Linked DNA regions of Homo sapiens: region 2 is linked to region 1. The links come from fine-mapping of genetic effects on gene expression. A gene starts in region 1. The other region holds a variant in brackets. All regions are shown on one strand. Distances are between the middles of the regions. Region 1 holds the start of TSNAXIP1 (translin associated factor X interacting protein 1). Region 2 overlaps EDC4 (enhancer of mRNA decapping 4).

The links. PIP is the estimated chance that this variant, and not a neighbour inherited with it, causes the effect. A credible set is the group of variants that fine-mapping cannot tell apart.
Region 2: its variant is the best candidate, but not a certain one, in a credible set for the expression of TSNAXIP1 in cerebral cortex (GTEx, PIP 0.61).

Annotation. Positions count from the first base shown.
Region 1 is chr16:67,804,831-67,809,212 of GRCh38, reverse strand. TSNAXIP1 (translin associated factor X interacting protein 1) reads right to left here and starts at 2,324. Exons shown (of 16, transcript NM_001288990.3): 1 at 2,017-2,324. The coding sequence starts at 2,063. It overlaps RANBP10 (RAN binding protein 10), which reads left to right and starts at 2,653. Exons shown (of 14, transcript NM_020850.3): 1 at 2,653-2,911; 2 at 3,674-3,785. The coding sequence starts at 2,677. RefSeq lists silencers at 2,095-2,214, 2,715-2,934 and enhancers at 2,355-2,584, 2,290-2,909, 2,910-3,530.
Region 2 is chr16:67,875,694-67,880,075 of GRCh38, reverse strand. EDC4 (enhancer of mRNA decapping 4) reads right to left here. Exons shown (of 29, transcript NM_014329.5): 2 at 3,975-4,131; 3 at 3,477-3,588; 4 at 3,104-3,203; 5 at 2,670-2,859; 6 at 2,420-2,567; 7 at 2,231-2,335; 8 at 1,801-1,910; 9 at 1,633-1,716; 10 at 1,445-1,540; 11 at 1,237-1,339; 12 at 939-1,119; 13 at 767-839; 14 at 573-664; 15 at 302-489; 2 more. Among named protein-coding and RNA genes, the nearest start is that of EDC4, 4.8 kb to the right of the region's middle. The variant A/G (reference allele first, on the strand shown) is at 2,462.

The sequences.
Region 1 (4,382 bases):
CAGGCGTGAGCCACCACGCCCGGCCATTTTTTTTTTTTTAATAGACAGGGTCTTGCTTTGTTGCCCAGGCTACAAGGCACTAGTGTGATCACAGCTCACTACACCCTCTCGAACTTCTGGGTTCAAGTAATCCTCCTGCCTCAGCCTCCTGAGTAGCTGAAACTTTTATTATTATTATTATTATTATTTGTAGGGACAGGGTCTTACTATGTTTCCCAGGCTGGTCTTGAATTCCTTACCTCAAGTGATCCTCCCACCTTGGCCTCCCAAAGTATTGGGATTACAGGCATGAGCCATCATGACCAGCCCTGTGCTTCTTTCTTAAAATGAATGGGGATTCTCTTTCTGGGTCTGCTTCATATCCTTTTCATAGAGAATGGCAGTTTACTAAATTAATCCTGTGCTGGGTAACAATTCTCTTTCTCTCTCTCTCTTTTCTTTTTCCTTTTTTTTCTTTTTTCTTTTTTTGAGACGGAGTCTCACTCTGTCGCCCAGGCTAGAGTGCAGTGGCGTGATCTTGGCTCACTGCAACCTCTGCCCTCTGCCTCCCTGGTTCAAGCGATTCTCCTGCCTCAGCCTCCCAAGTAGCTGGGAATACAGGTGCCTGCCACCATGCCCGGCTAAATTTTTTTTTTTTTTGAGACGTAGTCTCGCTCTGTTGCCCAGGCTGGAGTGCAGTGGCAGGATCTCGGCTCACTGCAAGCTCTGCCTCCCAGGTTCATGCCATTCTCCTGCCTCAGCCTCCCGAGTAGCTGGGACTACAGGTGCCCACCCCCATGCCTGGCTAATTTTTTGTATTTTGTAGAGACCGGGTTTCACCACGTTAGCCAGGATGGTCTCGATCTCCTGACCTAGTGATCCCCCCGCCTCGGCCTCCCAAAGTGCTGGGATTATAGGCGTGAGCCACCGTGCCTGGCCTCTTAGGGGCTTTTGTAGGCTTTTCTCTGTCAAGGCAGCAGACCCTGAAGAGTTTAGGTGGGATTGGGTGGTGTTTTTTTTTTTTTCCCCCACTGGGAATGAGTAGAAGGGGGGACACTACATTCATTCAACACTTACTGGGTGCCTATTACATACAAGAGCTGTGTCAAGAGCTTCACATATTCTGCCTAAATGTTCCCAACAATGTTTGTGGGGTGGGCTGTATCATTCCCATGTTTGAGATATATAAGCTGAGGCCTGGAACTTGAAGGGCCCTGTCTGAAGTCCCAAAACTAGAAAACGATTTAGCCAAAATTTTTGTTTTAATCCGTATGTATGGCTCTCCAGGCTGATGGAGCTGGTCATATTTTGCAGTACCCAGAGGCTATACACCTGAGTACAGGCAGAAGCTACCCAGAGGATGATCTCTCCAGGCTTCTAAAGTATTTCTTTACTTGTTCAATGGTAATATTACTACTTTATACAGTTGTTGTGAGGATTAAATATGGTACGTAGGCCGGGTGTGGGGGTTCACGCTTGTAATCCCAGTTTGAGAGGTCGAAGTGGGAGGGTCGCTTGAGTCTAGGAGTTCGAAACCAGCCTGGGCAACGTGGTGAAACCTCGTCTCTACAAAAAACAAACGAACAAAGAAACACCCAAAAATTAGCCAAGCGTAGTGGCGCATGCCTGTAGTCCCAGCTACTCGGGAGGCTGAGGTAGAAGGATCGCTTGAGCCCGGGAGGTCGAGGCTGCAGTGAGCCGTAGTAGTGCCACTGCACTCCAGCCTGGGCGACAGAACGAGATCTTGTCTCAAAAATAAAATATTTAAAAATGTGGTATATAAAGCATTTGGCATATAGTACATTCAATACAAGCTGGTTGTTACTAGTAATGATAAAGTGCGCCTACCGTTTTGCTAGCACGTAACGTCTTCACTGGGCTAAATCAGCCCGATTCTAACCATTGACTCTGTGGTGCTGGAGCCCTAGATCAATGGTCAGAGGCCAGCAGGAGGTGCAGAGGTCCGGATCAAGTGCCATTTCCCTCTCTAGAAGTACTCAAACCCTCATCTCTGCCCTCATCCCTGCCAGCGCCTACCTCGACGCGGACGAGAAGCTGTGGTACCGCGACTGCTGGCAGGCCATGACCCACGGGCAGGCGGGCAATCAGCACCCGCGGCCTGGGAAGCTGTGGTAGCGTACAGCCGGTCGCCATGGCGACCAGGCCCCAGAGGCCCCCCCGCGGCGGGGGCGGAGTCAGGGATGCGCCACGCCCCCGAGCCTAGCGCCCGCGGGCTGGGAGTAGGACAAAGTAGCAAAGGTGGACTGGGACCCGGCAGCGGGTGCCCTGAGAGTCAACCACTACAGCCGATTTGACCCCAGGTACCAGAACTGAGGCAGGGGGATGAACAGAGGCCATGGGGAGGGAAGTGTGCTGAGAGGCCGGAGCCGCTTTGCCGGCGGGAATGGTAGTTTTCGGTGTCCCGACGTCTCGATGGGACAGGCTTATGGCTGAGGACGGTTATACTACATCTCCCAGAATTCTCTACCAGCCCGAGTTGCTCCGCCTCTCGAGAGCTCTGCATTGTGGGGTATGGAGTTCGAAATGTGGTAAGGCGTGTCAGTGTCCAAAGAGGGGTGCCGGACTCGGACTCGGTTTCCCTGCGGCCCAGGGAGGCTCACGGGCCATTGGCTGAGCGGGGCGGATCTGGTCCCGCTCCTCCCCGCCCCCAGTGACACAATAGTAGCTCCCTCCAAGATGGCGGCAGCGACGGCAGACCCGGGAGCTGGGAACCCGCAGCCTGGGGACTCCTCCGGCGGGGGCGCTGGGGGCGGGCTGCCGTCCCCTGGGGAGCAGGAGCTGAGCCGGCGCTTGCAGCGCCTGTATCCCGCGGTCAACCAGCAAGAGACTCCGCTGCCGCGCTCCTGGAGCCCCAAGGACAAATACAACTACATTGGTCTCTCCCAGGGCAACCTCCGCGTCCACTACAAAGGTATCGGCCCGTCAGGCTGGGGGGAATTAAGGCTAGAGCGTCCGTGGGGTGGCTCTGCTGCCAGGCCCCCGCCCTATCACCTCCCTTTCCCTGCCTAGGTGCTCCAAGTTAGGGCTTGGCCCTTTCAGGATGTCCAGGGTGGTGAGGCTGAACAGGCCGAGGGCTGACTGCCTGTTCTCTGTCCTGAGACACCTGCCGTCAAGAGAACCGCAACAGGTGTCCAAACCCAGTGCTGGGCCGGACCTTCCACTCCAGGGCCTCCGTGCTTATCCTAGGCTGGCGCCAACGGCAGCGGGACCTTTCGCCACTGCTTAGAAGAAAGGGGTGGTCACATACCTACCATTAGCGTGAGACTCATGGGCTTCCCCACCTGCCAGGCATCCTAGACTGAGCCTGGGGTTCCGTGCTAGAGTTTGGGGGGTGTCTTCCAGGTCGGCCTCATCCTTCTTCCCCTGGCCTCCCAGGTGGGCTGCCTGGATTCTAGAGAGGCTGCCAGCAGCACTTGAGTATCTCTCACATTGCCTCTACCCTTGTTTTGTTTGTATGGGCAGTGTCTCAGGCAGGACTGCTGTTCTCAGGAGGAGGTGAGGCAAAGGTGGAAGGTTTAAGTGTTTATTCAGTTGTCTAATGATTCCTCGGCCTGTGTAAGTGCGTCCTCTGGCCACAGAGGAGTGGAGTTGTCATGGAGGAGTTGCAGAGAAAAATGAGGCTTCCATTTGCATTTCCTTCTGCTGAAATTTCTTACTTGCCCTCTCCTGTTAGGTCATGGCAAAAATCACAAAGATGCGGCCTCAGTGCGTGCCACCCACCCCATACCTGCTGCCTGTGGCATTTATTACTTTGAAGTGAAGATTGTCAGCAAAGGAAGAGATGGGTAAGCCCTTCATGACCACCCTCTTTCCCTGATCATGGAGCTGATCCCTGTGGTCAGAGTTCAGGTCCTTTGGCTGGCACTTGTTGCTGATGTGAGCTGGGGAGCCGCATGGGTCTGGGCTGCCATTATTTCCTGACTGTGGGCATGGTCTGGTCTAAGCAGCAGATCTTGATGGCCAGTGGGTGTGTTGGGGGTAAAGCAGGGATTATTTTTAGTGATGATGTAATTTGATACCTAGAAGGTTAGGCAAACAAGTAACAAGTTTACTTTAAAAATTTAGTGTCCAGAATGGAGTTTCCCTCATGAGCATGTGGTGTTTTTGTGACTTCCTTCCTTTCACATTCTTGCTGTATTCATGAGGTTCTTTTTTATGGCATTTAGTCATGTGGAGGCCCTGGTAGCCTTCAAAGAGATAGTAGAGTCTTTGCAGCATTCATGAAAGCTTCTGTGGCCACCGGCCTGTCATCTCAGGGTAAACAGCATACACATGATCAGAATCAGGTGACCTTGCTGCTCATAAACTTGTTTTTCAGTCCAAGGACTTGAACACTACTAGTTGGATCAACTTTAGGAAGGTCCTCATTAAAGTCAGCATTA
Region 2 (4,382 bases), 71 kb before region 1:
CTCCTCAGGTGGCCTGGTGGGGGAAGGCTGAGGTGTCAGCAGCCAGAGCTTGGCATCATCTGGTACCAGCCCCTGCCATCCTCCATCTCTGACCCTTGCCTCACCTGGTCAAGGAGGGGTCCACAGCTGAGGTGCTGCTCATGGCAGACACAGCTGTAAGGGAGCTGCTGCTACTGCTGCTGCTGCTGCTGCTACCGCTGCTGCTGCTGCTGGGAGAGGCAGTGATCTGGGGAGATGCAGGAAATAAGACCTGTGGCCTGTGGCTGAGGCATTCCCAGGTCCCCCTACCCTGGGAGAGTACCTGCTGCAAGGAGGCGCTAGGTGTCATGAAGGCGTCAGGTGTCATCAACTTGGGCTTGGTCTCACTGCTCAGACTGAGGAAGTCGGCAGGTGCAGGCAGCTCCACGATTCGTCGGAGGTCAGGCTGGGAGCCGTGAGCGGCTGACCCCAGGCCCTCAGAGCCCAGTTCGGGCCGAGACTCTCCAAATGCTGCAGGGCAAGTTGCCACTTGAGTTAGATCTCAGACCCTGGTCAGTCCAACTTACCCTACCTCCCTCTCACGCCCTACTCACTGAAGTCCTCGTGGGCAGTGTGGGTGGGCAGTGGGGCCACCACATCAGGGTTCAGCTGTGGCTGGAAGCGGATCTGCACATCTTGCAGTGCCCTGCAGGAAAAGAAGGGGGAGAATAAAGTGCTCCAAGGGCAAGGGTCAGTAGAGTGGAGACAGACACAGACAGGACACTGGCGGGCCTCCCCACTCACTCACTTAGTATGCACACAAAAGAGCTTGATGAGCACACCGGCCGCAGACTCCATGGCACCGGCTCCATGGGTACCATCTGAAAGGACAGTGTGGATGATGAAGCCCCTGGCCCTCTCTGTGCCTCCACAACCCCCTAGATATATGGACACATAGCTCTGACCCTGAGGCAGCTCACCAGCACCCAGGCTGTCATTTTCCTCTTCGGCAGGCAGCACCTCAGTGTGCCGTAGCCGGCAGCGACTCACAACCTGGATACCAAAGCTCAGCACAGGGTGGGTGAGCAGGAACTCCGAGATGGAGCTGAAGCAGGCGTGGCCCTCCTCCTGGTTTTGCAGCAGCTCCATCACATAGAGGACCTGCACAGGCAGAACGTTCCTAGCTGAGCTCAGAGGCTAAGGGCTGTGATGCGCCACCTGCCCCCCGGCCTTCCTCTATAATCCCAACTCTGCCCAGGGTACCCCATGGCAGCCTACCTTCCGTTGCACATCGCTGAGAATCAGGTATTCTGCTGAGAGGTCCAAGCAAACCTTGAGGCTAGGGGGCACACTCACTGAGCTGAAGATATCTGGGGAGAAGCTAGAGAGCCACAAAGCAGAGTGAATGAGCCTGAGAACTGAAGGAAGCTACATTCCCAACCCTGCCGCCCCTGCCCAGTCCCCCAGCCTTCCAGCCACTGCTTACCGAATAGTCTGCAGGCAGGTCCAGGATACTGTACACCACATCTTTAACTCTCGGTTCTGGTCAGCACCAGTAATAAGGAACCTCCAGAAAGGGACACTGCAAGGCAACAAGGCAGTGAGTGACTGGCTGGGGCCCCTGCTGGGAGCCATGGTCCAGCCCACCACCCACTAGGCTGCCCACTCACTCACTCAGGGTCTTGTTTCTTATGGTTGTCACAGAACAGGAGGCAGGAGAGGGGCCGCCCATCATGAGGTTTCCACTCGTGCAGACACCTGCAGGTAGGCAGATGAGGGGCCTGAGTGAGTGGTCGGGTGGGCTACCTCGGGAGGATCCTGGTCCCTGAGGCCCTGCCTTACCTTGGCTCATCTTGCCCCTCAATGTAGATCTGCCAGAACTTGACATAGCCATCGTGGCTCGCAGTAGCCAGCACAGTCCCATCAGGAGAGAGGGCTCCTTCACTGAGGCACTAGAAAGAACCCAAAAAGCTTTGCTGACTAGAGGTGAGAACAAGCCCCTCCCAAGTGAGGATGGCAATGAGCTGGGCTGACTCACGGTGGGACTGGCATGCTTGTGTGACTGACTAAATGAACAGGGTTCCTAGAGAAGGCCAGACCTGCAGGGTGCTGCTAGATAAGGAGAAAGCTGCACAGGTGAGGGCCAATTTGAGCTCAGAGTCCCCACGGGCAGAATGCTAGTAAAGCTGCCCGGGCAGCTGTGGATATAGGGAACAGAAGATGGATATGAGGAAGTGGGGAGGGCAGGGGAGGCAGGCAGTCACAGGCTTACCGTGCTATGACCTTTTACCACAATGAAGCCCTGCTTGATCTGGCTAACATCCACAGGCCAGGTACTGTGGCTGGAGCGGAGCATGTCCAGGTCCCACACCTCAGCCTGGAAGGCACAGGGAGGTGAGTGTGCAGCCCAACCCCACACTATGGCTTCTCTGGCGCCTCTTCGCCATGTCAGCCCCCTCACCCGGTCTTCATGCAGCAGGGCCACTGTTGGGCTGCTCTCCTC[A/G]CAGCAGTCTTCGCTCTCCTCAGGGATGAAGGGGCACCAGATGATCCTGCGAAAGTGGTTCAGTGGCGTGCCCTCTGGCTGCCGAATATGGACCAAGATCTCTTCTCTGAGCAGGGTGTTAAGGGCTAGATAGATGAATGAAGAGGCGTGACACCCCAGCTCCGCCCACCCTTCTTCAGTCCCACCACCCACAGGAAGGAATGGATACTGAATTTTGCCATTAACCAGAGCCAAGCGCCACACGAACAGGTTGCCTGCCTCATCCAGGCAGGCCAGCTGTGGAGAGTTGAGGTGCGCGAAAGCCAGATCAGCCACACTGCCTGTGAAGCCCTTGAGCAAGGTCCGCTCCGAAGTGCTGACGCTGATCACCCGCACCATGGCAGAGCCATTGTTGGCAGCTGGAATCAGGAGAGCAGTGGACCATGAATACGTATCCAGGCTCAGGCAGTAGCAGAGAAGCGCTGCCCCACCTGTCTCCCTGCCACCACCAGAGTCTCAAGCTTGGTTTTCCCACCCAGCTCCCCAAGAGGCAGCATGGACAAACCTTCCATTGTACCCCTAAGGCCTGAGTGGCCTGATGTTGGAACTGGCTCTGTGGGACATCCAGCAGAACATTCCTTCCTCCTCACTGTCTTTACTCACCCCGAATGGCATAGGCCAAGAAGGAGTTAGACACAGCAATCAGGTTGCCATAGTAGTACTTCTGTTCCCAGTCATACTTGGCGACAGGCTGAATTTTCACCTGAGAACCCAGGGTGAGAAAAGTCATGGAACTTCCCCAGAGCCTAGGTGGCCCCCAACATCCCTGGGGATGGGAGAGGACACAGATGCAAGTCCAGCTACCCACTGTTACCTCCTGGAGCCAGACTCCCACAGAGGCTTGGCACCCAGCCCTGGCTTCCTGAAACTGGGAAAGTGTCAAGGTGGTCCCCATAGGAACTGGCAGCATGAGGGAGACTGGAAAGGCTGGGTGTGCCCCCGTACATTATATATGCCACAGCATCCCAGTACCTACCTTGTTGCTTCCCCGGGCCTTGCTTGAAATGCTAGAGTCACTGCTAGCCACAATCTCCACCTCCTTGGCCAAAATCCCAATGCAGGTGGAGCTATCATCTCCTGAGAGACAGCTGTGGGGAAGAGTGCAAAAACTTTGCCTCTTGTTCACCCAAAGGCTCAGCGGGCAGGGTTGGGAGGAAGCGAGGACATAGCCAGACTGGGGAAGGTATCTAGTCCAATGTCAGCTTCGCCTGGTCCACTGGCCCCAGACCCACAGCTCTGCTTGCTCATCTCCTTCCTTGGGAATGAGCCTACTTTCATTCTAAACCAGGTATCCAGGCCAAACCCCTGAGCTTGTCCTTGCCTCTCATCCTAGTGCAAGCTCAAGCTCCACCCCAGGTCATCTAGAGAGGAAGCAGCAGAGGCTGCTGGCCCCGCTCACTCCCCATCTCATGCCTTCAGCTAGCAGACACCCCAAATACACCATCACCACTATTGTCGTCTCCTAGGTACTCACATGACCTGCTTCTCTTGCAGGTTAATGGGTGGCATGGTCCGAAGACCAGTCTTGTTTGCTGAGGTACTATCACCTGAGCAGAGCGGGTCTGGGACCAGAAGTCCATTGAGGTCCCCATTGTAGGCACTGGATGGCCGTGGGCTCTCTGCACTGGGGCCTGGGGACAAAGAGGGTCATTCTGATAAGGTTGCTCGACCTGCCCACAAGCCTCTCCCCTTTCAGAGTTTCCTTCAAGAACTATGAGGTGCTCTAGGAACACTCAACTGAGCAAAGCATGTCCATGAGGAGGAGGGCCCTGTGTTCATCTCTCGTTCCATAAACACTGATGTAGGCAGGACCAAGGATGAGCATGAGGCTCTTCTACCTGGGGGAGGGGTACAAGCCATCAAGGACCCTTTGAGGGCAGTG